Linked DNA regions of Homo sapiens: region 2 is linked to region 1. A link means that fine-mapping ties the variant in region 1 to the expression of a gene that starts in the linked region. Tissue or cell type: esophagus muscle. Region 1 holds a variant in brackets; the other region holds the start of a gene. All regions are shown on one strand. Distances are between the middles of the regions.

The links. PIP is the estimated chance that this variant, and not a neighbour inherited with it, causes the effect.
Region 2: SUSD2 starts here. The variant in region 1 is fine-mapped to the expression of SUSD2 in esophagus muscle (GTEx, PIP 0.92).

The regions. Positions count from the first base shown.
Region 1 is chr22:24,217,984-24,226,155 of GRCh38, reverse strand. It overlaps GGT5 (gamma-glutamyltransferase 5), which reads left to right. Exons shown (of 12, transcript NM_004121.5): 8 at 1-80; 9 at 504-610; 10 at 745-911; 11 at 1,050-1,160; 12 at 6,040-6,496. The coding sequence ends at 6,186. Among named protein-coding and RNA genes, the nearest start is that of GGT5, 23 kb to the left of the region's middle. The variant G/C (reference allele first, on the strand shown) is at 4,609.
Region 2 is chr22:24,177,803-24,185,974 of GRCh38, reverse strand. SUSD2 (sushi domain containing 2) reads right to left here and starts at 4,488. Exons shown (of 15, transcript NM_019601.4): 1 at 4,380-4,488; 2 at 2,708-2,918; 3 at 2,329-2,480; 4 at 1,672-1,839; 5 at 1,035-1,209; 6 at 680-881; 7 at 404-489; 8 at 46-314. The coding sequence starts at 4,455. It overlaps CABIN1 (calcineurin binding protein 1), which reads right to left. Exons shown (of 37, transcript NM_012295.4): 36 at 8,158-8,172; 37 at 7,347-7,922. The coding sequence ends at 7,779. RefSeq lists enhancers at 2,259-2,368, 2,439-2,518.

The DNA of each region.
Region 1 (8,172 bases):
CACGGGACAGGCACGTCCCATGTGTCTGTGCTGGGGGAGGATGGCAGCGCCGTGGCTGCCACCAGCACCATCAACACACCGTGCGTAGGGCCTGGGGGAAGGCGGATGGCTTCACTCCTCCTCTCCTAGACCTGCACACCCCCAGCCCCATGTCCCCTCACTTGTCCCCACGGGGCAGCACCTTGCTTTTGCCCTTTTTCTCCTCCTCTATTTCAAAAGAGGCCCCCACCCCTGACATCTCTGGCTGGAAAGGCTGCTGCTGGGGTGGCCCCGACCCAAGATTTACCTGGGAATGGGTAGCCTCACTCAGAAGGGTGCCCTGATGTGGGGGCACAGGTGGGTCTTTGGGGACCCCTCCTGGGTGGTGCCAGGGAGAGAATAGCGGCTTCAGCATGCTTCGGGGCAGCTGTAAAACGAGGGGGTCCTGCAAAGCGTGCAGGGTAAGTGGTGTCTGGTGGGAGCCCCGGGTCCTAGCCCAGGCTCTTCTGCCTCCACGGCTGCAGCTTTGGAGCGATGGTGTATTCACCACGGACAGGCATCATCCTCAACAACGAGCTCCTGGACTTATGCGAGCGATGCCCCCGGGGTTCCGGCACCACCCCCTCACCTGGTGAGAACAAAGCTTCCCACCCGGGGTCCACAAGGGCCCCCCACCAGGGGAGAGGAGGGAGGGGGCTGGGCTGGGGTTGCATGCTAACCCCTGGATGGGTCACTGCACTTGCCAAGACGCTGTTTGCTCAGCAGTGAGTGGAGACAGGGTGGGTGGAGCTCCCGGAAGGTGCTGGCCCCCAGTTCCAGGCGAGCGTTCCCCATCCTCCATGGTGCCCTCCATCTTGATCAACAAAGCCCAGGGGTCGAAGCTAGTGATTGGCGGGGCTGGCGGGGAGCTCATCATCTCTGCTGTGGCCCAGGTGAGTCTGGGGCTCCTGGCTCGAGTGTCTCCTCTCTGGGCAGCATACTGTCTGACTGTCTCTGGAGTGGGGATGTGAGGGCTGATGTAGGGTAGCAGGGTGCCCCCTTTCTCCCTGAAACCCTCATCTCTCCCCCAGGCCATCATGAGCAAGCTGTGGCTTGGCTTTGACCTGAGAGCGGCCATTGCAGCCCCCATCCTGCATGTCAACAGCAAGGGCTGTGTGGAGTACGAGCCCAACTTCAGCCAGGTGAGGCTGAGGTCCGAGCTGGATGCCTAGGGCAGAGCCCACTCCCCAAATCCGTGCTGCTCAAAGCCACCTGGGAGGAACTCAGTCACTGAGATTCTTAGGCCAGGTACACTTCAACTTTGGGGGCCATAGGAGTTGGGGACCTTGATGGGTGAGGCTGTCAGTGGCCTCCAGGCCAGTTCTGTGGCCTCCAAGACAGAGAGCAGGGTATTGTCTATGCTGCTCCCAGGCTGAGGATCTCAGCACCTTGGTCTCTGGTCTGTGGTTGATGCCATTTTTCAGAAGTGAGTTTTCCTGGCTGGGGCCTCTCAGACTCTCCCTCATGGTGACTTTTTCCTTGTGTGATTTGTAACTAATATTTGCAACTTTATTTGTGAAAGAGGTTGTTTTTCCTGTGACAGTCTGTAAAGTGATTTTCTTCTGGGGCACTAGGGCATTGGTGGTAATTTTTACTATATATATAATTTTTTTTTTTTTTGAGACAGCATCTCACTCTGTTGCCCAGGCTGGAGTGCAGTGTTGCGATCACAGCTCACTACAGCCTTGACATCCTGGGCTCAAGTGATCCTTCCTCCTCAGGCTCCCAAGGAACTAGGACTACAGGTGTGTGCCACCACACCTGGATAGTTTTTATTTTTTTGTTTTTCGTAGAAACAGGGTCTCTCACCATGTTGCCTAGGCTGGTCTTGAACTCCTGAGCTCAAGCAATCTTCCCGCCTTGGCCTCCCAAAATGCTGGGATTATAGGCGTGAGCCACCATGCCCAGCCTACAAACATTTTTTTTGATTCCCCACAGAAGCCCATGGTGCAGCTCCAGGGGCTGAATTCTTCTGGCTGACTCCCCCTCTATCCTTAGACAGAGACTCAGCTTCCTTGGAGCATCTTTGGGTTGATGGATGCCCTTTGTTAGGACCTATTTAAAAGATTGATAGTGGCCGGGCATGGTGGCTCATGCCTGTAATCCCAGCACTTTGGGAGGCCGAGGCGGGTGGATCACCTGAGGTCAGGACTTCCAGGCCAGCCTGGCCAACATGGTAAAACCCTGCCTCAACTAAAAATACAAAAATTAGCCAGGCGTGGTGGCACACACCTGTAATCCCAGCTACTCGGGAGGCTGAAGCAGGAGAAACACTTGAACCCAGGAGGTAGAGGTTGCAGTGAGCCAAGATCGTGACATTGCACTCCAGCCTGGGTGACAAGAACAAAACTCCATCTCAAAAAAAAAAAAAAAAAAAAAAAAAGATTGATAGCAGCTGAGGTTCCAGATCGTCAAAGCTGCCTCTCCTGTTATGAGACTTCTTCGGTCTCAAGTCCACCTTCCAAAGCCCTTAGAACCTGAGAACCATGGCCTTAGTCCAGGAACAGAGTGTAGTCCCAAGAGCCTTAGTTTTCAGACCTTGAGACTAAGGACCTCAGCCTGTTAGGCTCAAACTCTTGGAGTTTGCAGGCCTCCCTCCGCATGTAGGGTCCTTCGCATGACAGGAAGACCCTCTCAGGGCTCTCGGGTTCCAGGGATCTTAGATATGGAGGATTTCAAGATCCAGGGCACATCCTTTGGAGCCCTCCTCCCTTGACTCTTTTTTTATTTTTATTTTTTTAGACAGTCTCACTCTGTCACTCAGGCTGGAGTGCAGTGGCATGATCTTGCCTCACCACAACCTCCGCTTCCCAGGTTCAAGCAATTCTCCTGCCTCAGCCTCTGAGTAGCTGGGACTACACATGTGCGCCACCACACCTGGCTAATTTTTGTATTTTTAGTAAAGATGGGGTTTCCCCATGTTGGCCAGGCTGGTCTTGAGCTCCCAATCTCAAGTGATCTGTCCACCTTGGCCTCCCAAAGTGCTGGGCTTATAGGCATGAGCCACTGTGCCTGGCCCTCCCTTGACTCTTTTTTTTTCTTTTTTTTGAGACGGAGTCTCGCTCTGTTGCCCAGGCTGGCGTGCAGTGGCACGATCTTGGCTCACTGCAAGCTCTGCCTCCCGAGTTCACGCCATTCCCCTGCCTCATCCTCCCGCCTCATCCTCCCAAGTAGCTGGGACTACAGGCACCCACCACCACGCTCGGCTAATTTTTTGTATTTTTAGTAGAGACAGGGTTTCACCGTGTTAGCCAGGATGGTCTCGATCTCCTGACCTTGTGATCCGCCCGCCTTGGCCTCCCAAAGTGCTGGGATTATAGGCGTGAGCCACCGCGCCCGGCCCCTCCCTTGACTCTTGACTGAAGGACCTTTGTCTTTGTGAACATCAATTCTCAGGACCTTTCACCCTGGGGACGTGAAATGCTGAGAATTTGGGAGATGACAGTCTGGGGACTGGGATTAATGGAATCCAGTGACCCACAAACCTAAGGTTCTCAGCTCCCTTGGGGAGTTGGAATGTCAGCTATTCAGGTCTAGGGCTTTCCATGGAGTAAATCCTAAACTCTGGGTTGGAGACTTTAAGCCTCCAAGGACCTTCACAGCTAAGGCCCAGGGACTAGGGCGAGGAGAGTCTTTGATCCTCAGAGTCTTGGAGTTTGGCCAGTGGACTCTGAGGAATGGAGTCTCTGAGCACTGAAGGTCCAACTTTGGCTTCAGCAGTAAAGGATCTTGGCCTTCAAGTCTAAGGACAGTGGGCAATTAGTAGGTCAGGCATGGGGAACTCATAGCCAAACGTGCAGGGCTCCAAAGACCTCATTTGCCCTGTCAGCAGCTCAGGCCATGTGGCATCACCCGATGCATCTAGATGTCTCCGGAATCTCAGGCCCTGCAGGGTGAGGTTCTCGGGCCATTAGTTTTTTTTGTTTTGTTTTGTTTTGTTTTTTTGGCTTGTTGTTGTTGAGACAAAGTTTCACTCTGTCACCCAGGCTGGAGTGCAGTGGCGCGATCTCAGCTTATTGCAACCTCCACCTCCTGGGTTCAAGCAATTCTCATGTCTCAGCCTCCCAAGTAGCTGGGATTACAAGTGTGTGCCACCAAGCCTGGCTAATTTTTGTATTTTTAGCAGAAACAGCGTTTCTCCATGTTGGCCAGGCTGGTCTCAAACTCCTGACCTCAGGTGATCTGCCCACCTTGGCCTCCCAAAGTGCTGGGATTACAGGCATGACCACCGCGCCTGGCTAGGGAGCAGTGTTTTTAAGGACAACTTGGCGGGTTGGGGGAAGCCAATGAGCCAGGAGTGCTGATAGGTCAGGGATGAAATCATAGGGAGTTGGCTGCGCGCGGTGGCTCCCGCCTACAATCCCAGCACTTTGGGAGGCTGAGGTGGGTGGTTCACCTGAGGTCAGGAGACCAGCCTGGCCAACATGGCGAAAACCTGTCTCTACTAAAATTACAAAAATTAGCTGGGCAAAGTGGCAGGCATCTGTAATCCCAGCTACTGGGGAGGCTGAGGCAAGAGAATCACTTGAACCTGGGAGGGGAAGTTGCAGTGAGCCAAGGTCGTGCCATTGCACGCCAGCATGGGTGACA[G/C]AGCGGGACTCCATCTCAGAAACAGACACACACAAAAAACCCCTGGAAATCATAGAATCATAGGGAGTTGAAGCTTTCTTCTTGAGCTGAGTCCGTTCCTGGGTGGGGGCCACAAGGTCAGATGAGCCAGTTAATCGATCTGGATGGTGCCAGCTGATCCATCAAGTGCAGGGTCTGCAAAATTTCTCAAGCACTGATCTTAAGAGCAGTTTAGGGAGGGTCAGAATCTTTAGCCTTCAGCTGCGTGACTCCTAAACCATAATTTCTAATCTTGTGGCTAATGTGAGTCCTACGAAGGCAGTCTGGTGCCCAGGCAAGAAGGAAGTCTGCTTTGGGAAAGGGCTGTTACCGTCTTTGTTTTAAACTATAAACTAAGTTTCTCTCAAAGTTAGTTCAGCCTACACCCAGGAATGAGCAAGGACAACTGGGAGGTTAGAAGCAAGATGGAGTCGATTAAGTTAGATCTCTTTCCCTGTCTCAGTCATAATTTTGCAAAGGCGGTTTCAGTCTTGCTGTTTTGCCCAGGCTGGAGTGCAGTGTCATGATCAAAGCTCACTGCAGCCTCAAACTCCTAGCCTCAAGGGATCCTCCTGCTTCAGCCTCCTGAGTAGCTGGGACTATAAGCACAGGGCCACCACATCCGACTAATTTTTTCTTTTTTCTTTTCTTTTATTTTTTAATAAAGACGTGATCTTGCTACATTGCCCAGGCTGGTCTTGAACTCCTGAGCTCAAAAGATCCTCCTGCGCCGGCCTCCCAAAGTGCTGGGATTACAGGTGTGAGCCACCACGCCCAGCCCAATTTTTGATTTTCTTTTAGAGACGGTGTCTTGCTTTGTTGCCCTGGCTGTTCTCAAACTCCTGGCCTCAAGTGATCCTGCCACCTTGGCTCCCAAGTGGCTAAGACTGTAGGTATGTGCCACCACGCCTGGCTTTTTTTTATTTCTTATTTTTTATTTTTTAGAAACAGGATCTTGCTGCATTGCCCAGGCTGGTCTCAAACTCCTGGCCTCAAGTGATCCTCCTTCCTCAGCCTCCCAAATTGCTGGCATTACAGGTGTGAACCACTGTGTCTGGCCTCAGTGTCTAAATCTTGAGAAGCCACATCCTCCATCGAAGGCCCCCTGAACTCAGATTTGCACCTCAAGGCCCTGGTGTCCTTGGATCCAGAACAGACATGAACTTGCATTTGGAGGTCTTCGGGCCTGGGTGGTGTCCTTCGTACATAGTCCCTGGAGGCTGAGCTTGTCCTCTATGGGCCTTTGGATCTCTTCCATGCTCCCATCTGGTCCTCCCCTCTTCCTGTGTCTTCAGGCCCTCTTCCTCTCCGTCTTGCCTTTTGATCATTTTTCTCATTTCTTGCAGAGGCCTCTCCCTCCTGGAGATGGGCTGAGCTGCCCTCCCCTGTGAACCTGCTTTCTCTCCTCTCCAGGAGGTGCAGAGGGGACTCCAAGACCGTGGCCAGAACCAGACCCAGAGGCCCTTCTTCCTGAACGTGGTCCAGGCTGTGTCCCAGGAGGGGGCCTGTGTGTACGCCGTCTCGGACCTGAGGAAGAGTGGGGAGGCCGCAGGCTACTAAGACACTGCTCTGCCCAGAGCTGAAGTCTGGCCCCACCATGAGTCCTGTGTCCAGGCCGGACATGGCTGGGGGACCAACTACTCTGGCAGGATCTGGACCCCTGGCAGGGGAGTCCAGCTGAGAGTGGAAGAGGTGGCGGGGACCAGCTGGGCAGATGAGAGGCTGAGCCTCATCCCTAACCCCCTTTCCCAGAGCCCCTGGTGGTCCTGAACCGGCCCCTCTATCCCTCCGCAGGCCTCTTGCCTGGGGCCACTCTCCCACCCTCTCGATCTGTATATCCTCCAGTCCAAGATTAAAGAGGCGGACTGTGGCCTGATTCCATGGTTCTAAGTGGGGAGGGGACCCTCGGACAGTGCACAGAGGGGTGCATGCACCAGGCTCCTATGGCTCTCCACATTCCACCACCATGGAGGTGGGGAAACTGATGCTCGTGGACCAGCCGAACCTCAGCCAGGCCACCCCTGGACAGAGACAAGCACCACCTCTGCCTCCCAACACCTCACCACTCTGGTGGCCAGGACTCAGCAGCGTGACTGGCCCCAGACCTGAGAGCTGGTTAACTGAAAAATCACACAATTCACAAATTTGGAAAAGAGACTTTTTTCTTTCTTCTTTCCTTTCATTTTTTCTTTCTTTCTTTTTTCTTTGAGATGGGGTCTTGCTCTGTCATTCAGGCTGGAGTGCAGTGGTGCAATCACGGCTCACTGCACCCTCAACCTCCTGGGCTCAAGCCATCCTCCTGCCTCAGCCTCCCAAGTAGCTGGGACTACGGGTGTGCAACACCACACCTGGCCAATTTTTAAAATTTTTTTTGTAGAGACAGGGTCTCGCTATGTTGCCCAGGCTGGTCTTGAACTCCTGGTCTCAAGCCATCCTCCCTCCTCGGCCTTCCAAAGTGCTGGGATTAAGGTGTGAGCCACTATGCCCGACAAGACTTTCTTTTTTTTTTTTCCTTCAACTTGTGTTTTGAGTTCAGGGGCCCATACGTAGGATGTGCAAGTTTGTTACATAGATAAACATGTGCCTTGGTGGTTTGTTGCAGAGATCAACCCATCACCTAGGTATTAAGCTCAGCATCCATTAGCTATTCTTCCTGAAGCTCTCCCCCATCCCCCAACTTACTTTCTTTTTTTTTTTTTTTCTGTGAAACAAAGTCTCACTCTGTTGCCCAAGCTGGAGTGCAGTGGCAAAATCTCAGCTCACTGCAACTTCTGCCTCCCAGCTTCAAGCGATTCTCCTGCCTCAGCCTCCTGAGTAGCTGGGATTACAGGTGCGTGCCACCACACTCGGCTCATTTTGTATTTTTTGTGGAGATGGGGTTTCACCATGTAGCCAGGTTCATCTTGAAATCCTGACTTCAAGTGATCCGCCTGCCTTGTCCTCCCAAAGTGCTGGGATTACAGGTGTGAGCCACAGCGGCAACTTTATTTTTCATAAAGGGTTACAGACTGCAGGGTGGCCATCCGCCACTTTCAAAAGCATAGCCTCTGGCAGAGACCAGAGACAGGCACTTCTTTTTTTTTTCGAGATGGAGTCTCGCTCTCTTGCCCAGGCTGGAGTGCAGTGGCACGATCTCGGCTCACTGCAAGCTCCACCTCCCAGGTTCACGCCATTCTCCTGCCTCAGCCTCCCGAGTAGCTGGGACTGCAGGCGCCCGCCACCACGCCCGGCTAATTTTTTTTGTATTTTTAGTAGAGACGGGGTTTCACTGTGTTAGGCAGGATGGTCTCGATCTCCTGATCTCGTGATCCGGAGATAGGCACTTCTAAGGAGGAGAGGTTGGGGCAGGAGCTGTATGCTGAAGGGGTTGGCTAAACATACATATTCAACATGTTACAGGGAGAGCTATGAATATTCATGAAGGCAGTCTTGACACATGTGTATTGAACGAACATGCATGTAACATAGGACTCATGTTTGCTGTAGGATGAAGACGGTGGAGACTTAACATTAAAATGTATTACAAGGTCAGGCACGGTAGCTCAC
Region 2 (8,172 bases), 40 kb after region 1:
CCAGCCCGATCTTTCCCAGGGTCTGGGGCACGGGATGGCACCCACCCAGTCTTGGGGGCCGGTAGTTGCGGCAGTCATTGGAGGGCCGCCGTTGCATGTAGCGGGGGCAGTCGGGTGCCCAGAGGCAGCAGTAATAGAAGCTGAGGACATCGTAGAGCCAGTGGGACATGCTGGGCACTCGGGGTGGCGTGCGGAACGGGGGTGCGCCCCAGTCATGGCCGCGGTCGGGAGTGCTGCCGCCGCTGGAGTCAGCTGTCAGGAGCTGCGTCCCGTCCGCTGTGTAGCAGCACTGCTGACCTGAGCCGTACCGGAGGCTGCAGGAGCCAGTGAGTCAGGGCCAGGCCACTGTTGGGAGCCCACCCCTGACCCCAATCCCCATACCGGCCCCAGCCTGGGGGCTCACCTGGCCTGCACAGAACGCACACAGTGCACGGCCCCGGGGTGGTAGGTGCACACGCTGCCCTGCTCCATGTCACAGCCGTAGTCCGTCTGCAGAGCAGCAGGTGGCTGTCACCCAGTGGCCTCGGGTTCTGTCATCCCCTCCCTGAGGCCAACCCTGCAGGGGTCCTGAGACCCCAGCCCCACCCTCCAGGACACCTCTGTCTGCCTCCCCTGGTGCTGTCCTCAGTGGGGAGGCTAACCCCTCATCCCCTCTCCTGGGCCCTGATGGGAGGCTCACGAAGAAGCGGCCGGAGTCAGCCCGGGCCTGGGTCAGGGTGCAGGGGCAGTCCGGCAGCTCCTCCAGGAAGTTGGGCAGCTGATCCTCCAGCTCCTCCCAGGCCTGGCACTGAGTTCGTGCCCAGGCCACAGGGTCCTCTCGGAAGTCATCGCTCAGGTGCCAGGCCAGTGCGTGGTCGTTGGTCCAGAGCGCCTGCACGTCCCTGTGGAGGTGATGATGCTGGAGCTGGGCCAGCCCACACCACCCCATGGTCGCCCCACTCTCCCCACCCCCAGCCTGGGCTGCCCAGGCAAGCATGATGGGCCTCGGGCGGCGAGGCCCTCCAGCCATCACCTGCACATCCATGCCTTCTTACTTCTGCCCTGCGTAATTTTTGCTGTCGATGATCCGAAGTGCACCCACTCGCCATCTCTGGTAGCTGGGAGGAGCAGGTTTTGGGGTGAAAGTGAAAGAGCCGGAGTTGGGGATGTGTGTGGCCAGGGGGTACAGGTACGACCACTTTGCAGTCCACTCCTGTGAGTAGGGCATTCCTGAGGGAGAGGATGCCTGGTTAGCCCTGGGGTTCCTTCGAGGCCTGGCCCCAGGCCTTGCCACCTACAGCAGCCTGACAGATGGGTGGATGGACCGCCAGGCGGTCCCCTTAGGAGGGGCTGTTCTAGCAGGGACCCCGGCTTGGGTGACCATCACCTCCTGCCACACTCCAGGATCCCTGTCCCTGCTGGAAGCTGGGCCCAGGGCCATGCCAGCCGTGCAGGGGTTCCTCATGAGCCTCCTCCCCTGGAGCCAGGCCCCATGAGCTGCCCCCTCCCACCTGCCTGACCCCCCTGACCTGCACTTCCCTCCATCCGAATCCTCAATCTCTGCCTGGAATTCCCTTCCCTCCTCAACCCCACCTGGAAACTCCCTTCCTCCTCCCACACAGCTGGGACCCCCTTTCTCCCCCTCTGGGGGCCCAAAGCTCTGATGCCACCCCAGCCCTCAGCTGGCCTCACCTGTCTCCTCGTAGCCCCACAGTTCGATGGTGATGGTCTGCGTGGGCAGCGACTTGACATGCCAGGTCAGGCTGAGGTTGCCTGAGGTGTTGGCGGTGCCGTAGTATTGCCAACGCGTCTCGTTCACCAACTCGCTCTTCTCCATCATTGACACTTTGTTGGGGTGCACTGGGCAGGGGAGGTGAGGGGTGAGTGAGGGCCTGGGCCCAGGGAAGCAGGGAGGAGGCCCTGAGGCTTCAAGGGCTGTGGGAGCCTCCAGGGCCAATGCATGGCAGCAGCTGGGTGATGGTCTCTCTGGCCCGCACAGCAGAAAAGGACGCTGAGGCCGCAGAGGCAGGGGCCTGCCCTCCCTCCACTGCCCACGCCTCTAGCCTCGACCTGGCTTCTCCCCTGCCCTGGCATGGCGGAGCTCAGTGGATAGGCACTGGCCCACCTCTCTAGGGACCCCTGCAGCTCCCACTCACTCTGGGCTGGGACCGCGGTCTGGATGCCAGGGAGTGGAAAGGAGCTGAAGGAACTCTCGCAGGCGGGCAGGCCTCCCAAGGGACTGGTTCAGCCAGAGAGGCAGGGCACGGACAGGCCAAGTCTCGGTGTGCATAGATTAGCGCTGGGGAAAGTCCCCGTGGGGGCAGGCTGTGGGCAGGGAGGAGGGCTCACCAGCCAGCCAGGTGCCCGCACGAGGGAAGGAGTGGCCGTTGTCCAGTGACACAGTGAAGGGGATGCGGCCGCTCTCATAGAGCAGAGGTGACACACAGTGCACTTGCCCGGAGGAGTCCACATGGCCGAGGGTCTGGATGCTGTCCTTAAACCTGTGGGCGTGGTGGTGGTGGGAGGGGCTGGGTCATTGCAGGCTGAGCCTCTCGATGGTCTGGGCCCCCAACCTCCCTGGGGAACCCAACCAGCCAGCTGTCCCTGTGCCCTCCTGCCTGTCCTGGGTCCGAGGGGCTCCACTCAGCCAGTCAGTGGGTCTGAGCCCTCAGCATGCACAGGGATGGGGGCGTGGGGCCCCAGTGCCCGGCCTCCTGGGCCTCCCAACCTGCAGATCACACTGGCGTCTGTGGGGCTGGACATCTTGAAGTGCCGCACCACAAAGTCCTTGCCGCCCATCATGGATCCTGAGTAGGGCAATATCTCCAGGCAGAAGTCCCGGAAATCCAAGCAGCAGGTGCCAAGGCCAGAGCACGTCGGGTGGCAGGAACATGGCCCGTCCAGGGCGCCACAGCGCATGGAGCAGCTCTCTTGGGCATCTGGAGGAGAGGATGCTGAGGGCCTGGCCCGGCGGGTACTGGACTGGCTGCCCCATGTGCAGGGCCTGTCTCTGTTTCTCCCACAGCCCATTAGACAGCAGCATCCCCAGGAGAACGCTGGCCAGGAACTGCACAGGCCACCAGGTGGACACAGTAGAAAGCCACAGGGCCCGTGGGGATGGGATGAATCTTAGCACAGACCATCTGGCTGTTGCCCTGACTGACGGGCTAGAATGCAGCGAGAAGAGGCAAAAAGCTGCATCCGCTCAGCCCTGCAGGGTCAGGAGAAGCCCCTGGGCATGACTGCCCTTCAGCCACCAAGTCCTCTATCCCACAGGCAGGGGTCCTCAGTGGGCCACGGTAGCTGGAGCCCTCGACCTCTCTTGGCTCCCCAGGGTGTCTGTGGTCAGCACGCCTTCTGGGGGCCCTGAAGCCTGCAGAAGAACCCCTCTTGCTTGCCTGGACTGGGGTGGGGGATATGGCTGCCAAGAGTCTCATTTGAGGCCTGGTAGGGAATGGTGCAGGGTCTGAACGTGACACTTCTCGCTCTCCCAGGGGCTGCAATTGAGACCCCAAAGAGAGCTCCGTGCTCAGGGCAGAAGGCCAGGGCCGCTCCCCTCCTTTCTGGGGAGAGGAGGGACATTTCAAGCAGGGGTCCCAGCAGTGGGGAAAGGGAAGTGGGGGTGCACACCACAAGGGGCTGTGGGCGCCGGGCCCAAAACTTCTCCTATGGGCCATAAGACCGGTGGGCAAGGCCATATTTCCAGGGGCTGGCATGAAGGAAGGGTTGCAGGGAGGGACTGGGGCAGGTGCATGCACCCAGGCTGGAATTGCACTTCCCTGGCCCTTCCCCATCCCCCATCAAAAGAGGCCAGTCGAGGGCCAGGCCTGGGCCTGAGCCACCCCGCTGGCCCCACTTCACCAAGTGCAGTGCCTGGCACTTAAAAGCAACAATAAATATGTACTGGCCAAGGATTTGGTGGCGCACAGGGGTCGGGGGAGGAGGCCGAGAGATGCTTGCAAGTGAGATAAGTGGCAAGAGGGTCGATGGGAAATGGGGTGGGGGACGGGGGGCAGCCTGGGACCAGTGTCCTGGTTCTGGAGTTCGGGGCTTTCCCTAGACTTTCCTGGATTCAGCCCCACCCTGATGAGGACCCACAATCCTGGCTCCCCCTCCGTGATCCCGCCCTGTCAGGGCTGGGGACACAGGCGGAGGCCTCTGCTGGTCTCCCCCGCCTCCCTCCTAGCTACCAGCAGGTTTAGGGTGGGCCCGGCTCAGACCTCCCATCCCCATGGGCTGCCCCTCCACATGGACCCTCAGAATTTCTTCCCATCACCCCTAGCACAGCCACAGATGGCCTGACAGATGGACAGAGGCTGAGCCCAGAGGGATGTCAGCCCAGGCCTGGCTGCAGACAGATGGACAGACAGACGGGGACACAGAAGGGCAGGGAGGCATACCTGCTGTGGGTCCGGGGCCCGGGCCGAGGGCTGTCGCCAGCAGCAGCAGGGCCCAGGGCAGGAGGGCTGGCTTCATGGTGCAGCCTGTGTCTGCAGCCAGCAGTGCAGTGGCTCCGAGGCGAGGCGGCCAGACAAGCTCACTCCCTGCTGGCCTGGCCCCGCCCGCCCTGCACTCTGCGGCACCGCCCCGCCCCGCCCCTCCCCGCCCCTCCCCACCCAGTCCCCTCTCAAAGTCCACAGGTGCCTGCGTGGACCAGCAAGGCCCAAGTTGCCCCGTTAGCACATTCCTGGCCCGCAGGCCTGGATCGGCCCTGGGACCCTGTGGGAGGGTGAGGAGGCCGGAGCCTCCAGCCACAGGACCTTTGGCAGGCGATGAGCCGGATGTCCAGAGGGCGAAGCTCAGACCCTGGGTCCCAGCCCCGCCTTGCATGCAGGGCGAGCCCGGCGGGGCTGAAGCAGAGGATGGGATGCGCAGGGTGAATAAGGCAGGGCTGTTTTAGCTCCAGGGAGGATTCCAGACTCTGTGGCCCTGACATAGACCTCCATCTCTAGCCCTCATCTTCCTGCAGGAAGGAGGTGCACCCAACTCATCCTCAGGGGGAGGCAGGAGCTGTTTGGGTCAGACACAGGCTGAGCCCTGGGGCGGAGGCAGCTCTGCAGGGGTCCCCTCTGGAGGGAGGAAGGAGGAAGGGGAGAGAAGGTACCCAAGCCCAGCGGGGGGCCCGGAAGGGAGACAGGGCCCATCCCCGGGCTCCAGAGATGCCACCACCCTGGGGAGCCTTGGCTGTCCCAGCCACACCTAATCCTGCCGCTAAGAGTTTGCATAATTTAATCAGTATTCACCTCCCTTCTTGAGCAGATGAGGAAACTGAAGCTCAGATGCGGATAGGCAAGGCCGAGCCAGGCCCTTGGTGGCTTCTGGGAGCCCCTGCAGCCAGGGCGGGTGGTAAGGGCTGCGGCCTGGGACTGGTCATTTGGACCCTGACACCTGGGCTGGACATCCAGACAGGCGGGTGGTCCTCTCCCAGCTGCAGCTTCTCAAGGTGTCCAAAAGGGACCCTTGCCACACTTGCAGGGAGTCAGAGGTGGCCCCAGGGCATGAGCTTAGGCCATCCGGTCTGTGATCTGCCCCAGCGCTTGCGGCCAGGCCAGCCCATTGTTCCCCGGCCTGTTCTCTCTCTTGCCTGGGTGGTGCCTGCTGGGAACCACAGGGTGTTGGCAGCCACCCGTGGCTCCAGAGAGGTGGCCCCTACTGAAAGTGTTAGAGGCGTGTGCTGGGGGACTTGGCTCCTGAGTCCCCACACAGAGCTGTTCCAGGGAAGCCACACCCGCATTTGATGTTTTCCCACCTCCCAAAGACATTTGGTGAGAGGCCCCCAAGACCTTCAGCTTCTCAGGGACTGTCTCCAGAGGGGAGAAAGTCCCTTAACCCACAATGGCGCTCAGGGCACCTCTGCAGGTGAGTGTCCTGTAAGTGGACGCTCAGGTGCTGAGCCAGGGAGAGCCTGTCTCCTGGCCCCAGGCTGGCGAGGGCATTCATCCCAGGCCCAGGGCTGAAGTTGCTCCCTACAGCACTGGGTGCAGGGGAGGGTCCGAGGTGTCCGTCCTCCTATAGGTGAGGCTCCAGGGAGGGGTGCTGGGGGATCGGCTGAGACAGTTCCCGGGAACTGGAGGAGGGAGAGCTGCTGCTTCCTGTTTTTGGCCTGGGCACCGTTGCTGCGCGTGTCTGGAGACAATGGAAGTGCGGTAGGGGCTAGGTGTGCAGTCTGGGAAGCTCCATACCCCAGGCCCTGCAGGGAGGGGGCGTCAGCTGAGTAACTGGGGCTGGCTTATCTCAGCCCCCCGAAAGGCGGGTTCAGCCAGACCCATCTGGGGCCACCAAGCCTCTGGTTCCAAAAGGGCGGTGCCCAGCCCTTTACGCCTTTCCTCCTGGGTGGTGGGCATGTCCAGCCCATGAGGGGCACAGGGCAGTGAGGAGGGTCCCCATCTCCATCCTGGACAGAGAGCCTGCTCCATGGGAGGTCCCAGGGCCAGGAGGGCCCCTGCGGTGCTGGGAGGGGAAGAGAGTTGTGAAGGGTGCCAGCTCTAGGGGCTTAATGCTCTGTGGGGCCTGCCTTAAAATCCTTAATCATTTTTGGTCAGACATGGTGGTGGCTCAGGCCTGTAATCCCAGCACTTTGGGAGGCCAAGGTGGGTGGATCACTTGAGGTCAGGAGTTTGAAACCAGCCTGGCCAACATGGTGAAACTCCGTCTATACTAAAAATACAAAAATTAGCTGGGCGTGTTGGCGTGTGCCTGTGATCTCAGCTACTCGGGAGGCTGAGGCAAGAGAATCGCTTGAATCCAGAAGGCGGGGGTTGCAGTGAGCTGAGATCGTGCCACTGCAGATCGTGCCACTGCATTCCAGCCTGGGAGACAGAGTGAGACTCCATATCAAAAAAAAAAAAAAAAAAAAAAAAAAATCCTTAATCCTTTTTGATCAAGGAGCTTCATATTTATGTCTTGCACTGAGCCCAGCTATTCTGTGACTGGCCCCATTAGGGCGACTGTGATGGGAGTTAAGTACCCTCCCTGCCGGCCCCATCCCCCCTTTCCCTCCCTGACAGCCCCCTCCTCCCAGCCTCTCAGCTGCCCCAGCCCTGCCTGCCCTCCCACCGTACAGCCTCCCACCCACTGGCACCCAGGTGCGTTCTGGGGATGCACCTAACTCCCCTTTGAAGCCTGGCTCCAGCTGCACTAGAGGCGTCTGCCTGGCCCAGCCCCGAGTCGGCTCTCTCCTTACCCCACTGGGCACCCCCAGCCGCTGCTTTGGTTGCCTGGCTGGTCCCTGAGATGCTGGAGAAGGAGGGGGGCTAGGCCCTGCCCTATGGACTATGGCAGTAAAGGCCCAGAATCCCTGGGGACAGCAACTCTCCGCCAGAGACTCTGCCAGATTGCCCCCTAGAGGTGAGCAAAGAGGCAAAGACAACTGTTCCATCTTTATTAGAAAAGCAACCAAAAAAAGGGTGAGGGGTGAGCCTGGCCCTAAAGGACCCCTCCACTGTGACACAGGCAGAGCCGGCTCATCCCGGCGTCGAGGGGTGGATATGGCCAGCTGGGTGTGGGCAGATTTACAAAGTCAACACTTCATAGAAAAGGATGCCGCCTGGCGTGCAGATGGCGACCAATCCACCTTCACATGGCTAAGGCGGGCCCCTCCTCCTCTGGGCTCCCATGTGGTGTGGACAGCCTGACCTGGGTACAGGGAGGATGCCATGAGGAGGTGGGCTGGGCAGGCCTGGGGGCTGTGTGGGGAGTGGCATCCATGTGGGCCTCTGGTCCTGCCCAGGGTCCTGCCCAGGGGGCATTCCAGGCCTGGCTGGTCCCCTGGGGCGTGGCGGTGGGGCTGCAGTGGCCCCTCAAATGTCCATGTAGTCGTCGTCCTCGTCTGTCTCGCTCTCCAGCGAGGACTCCTGGCTGGATGTCTCCAGGACCTCCAGGGCTGGCTGGCATAGGCTCTCCTTCCTCACGTTGGCAGCAGACTGGGCAGAAAGGATGGCTGACTGCGGAGAGGGCCGGGCGGGGCACTGGTCAAGGATGGCTGGGCTCTGCCCCAAGCCCCTCTGCCACCTTCACCCCTGCCCCAGGCCCCCCTCCCACCCTCACCCCTGCCCCAGGCCCCTATGCCATCCTCACCCACACCCCAGGCCCTCCTGCCACCCCCACCCCCATCCTAGGCCCCCTTTGTAACCTATGCCTCCCACCCACACATGGCTCCAGCCCAGCCCCTGAGGTCACCTTCAGCTTCTGCTT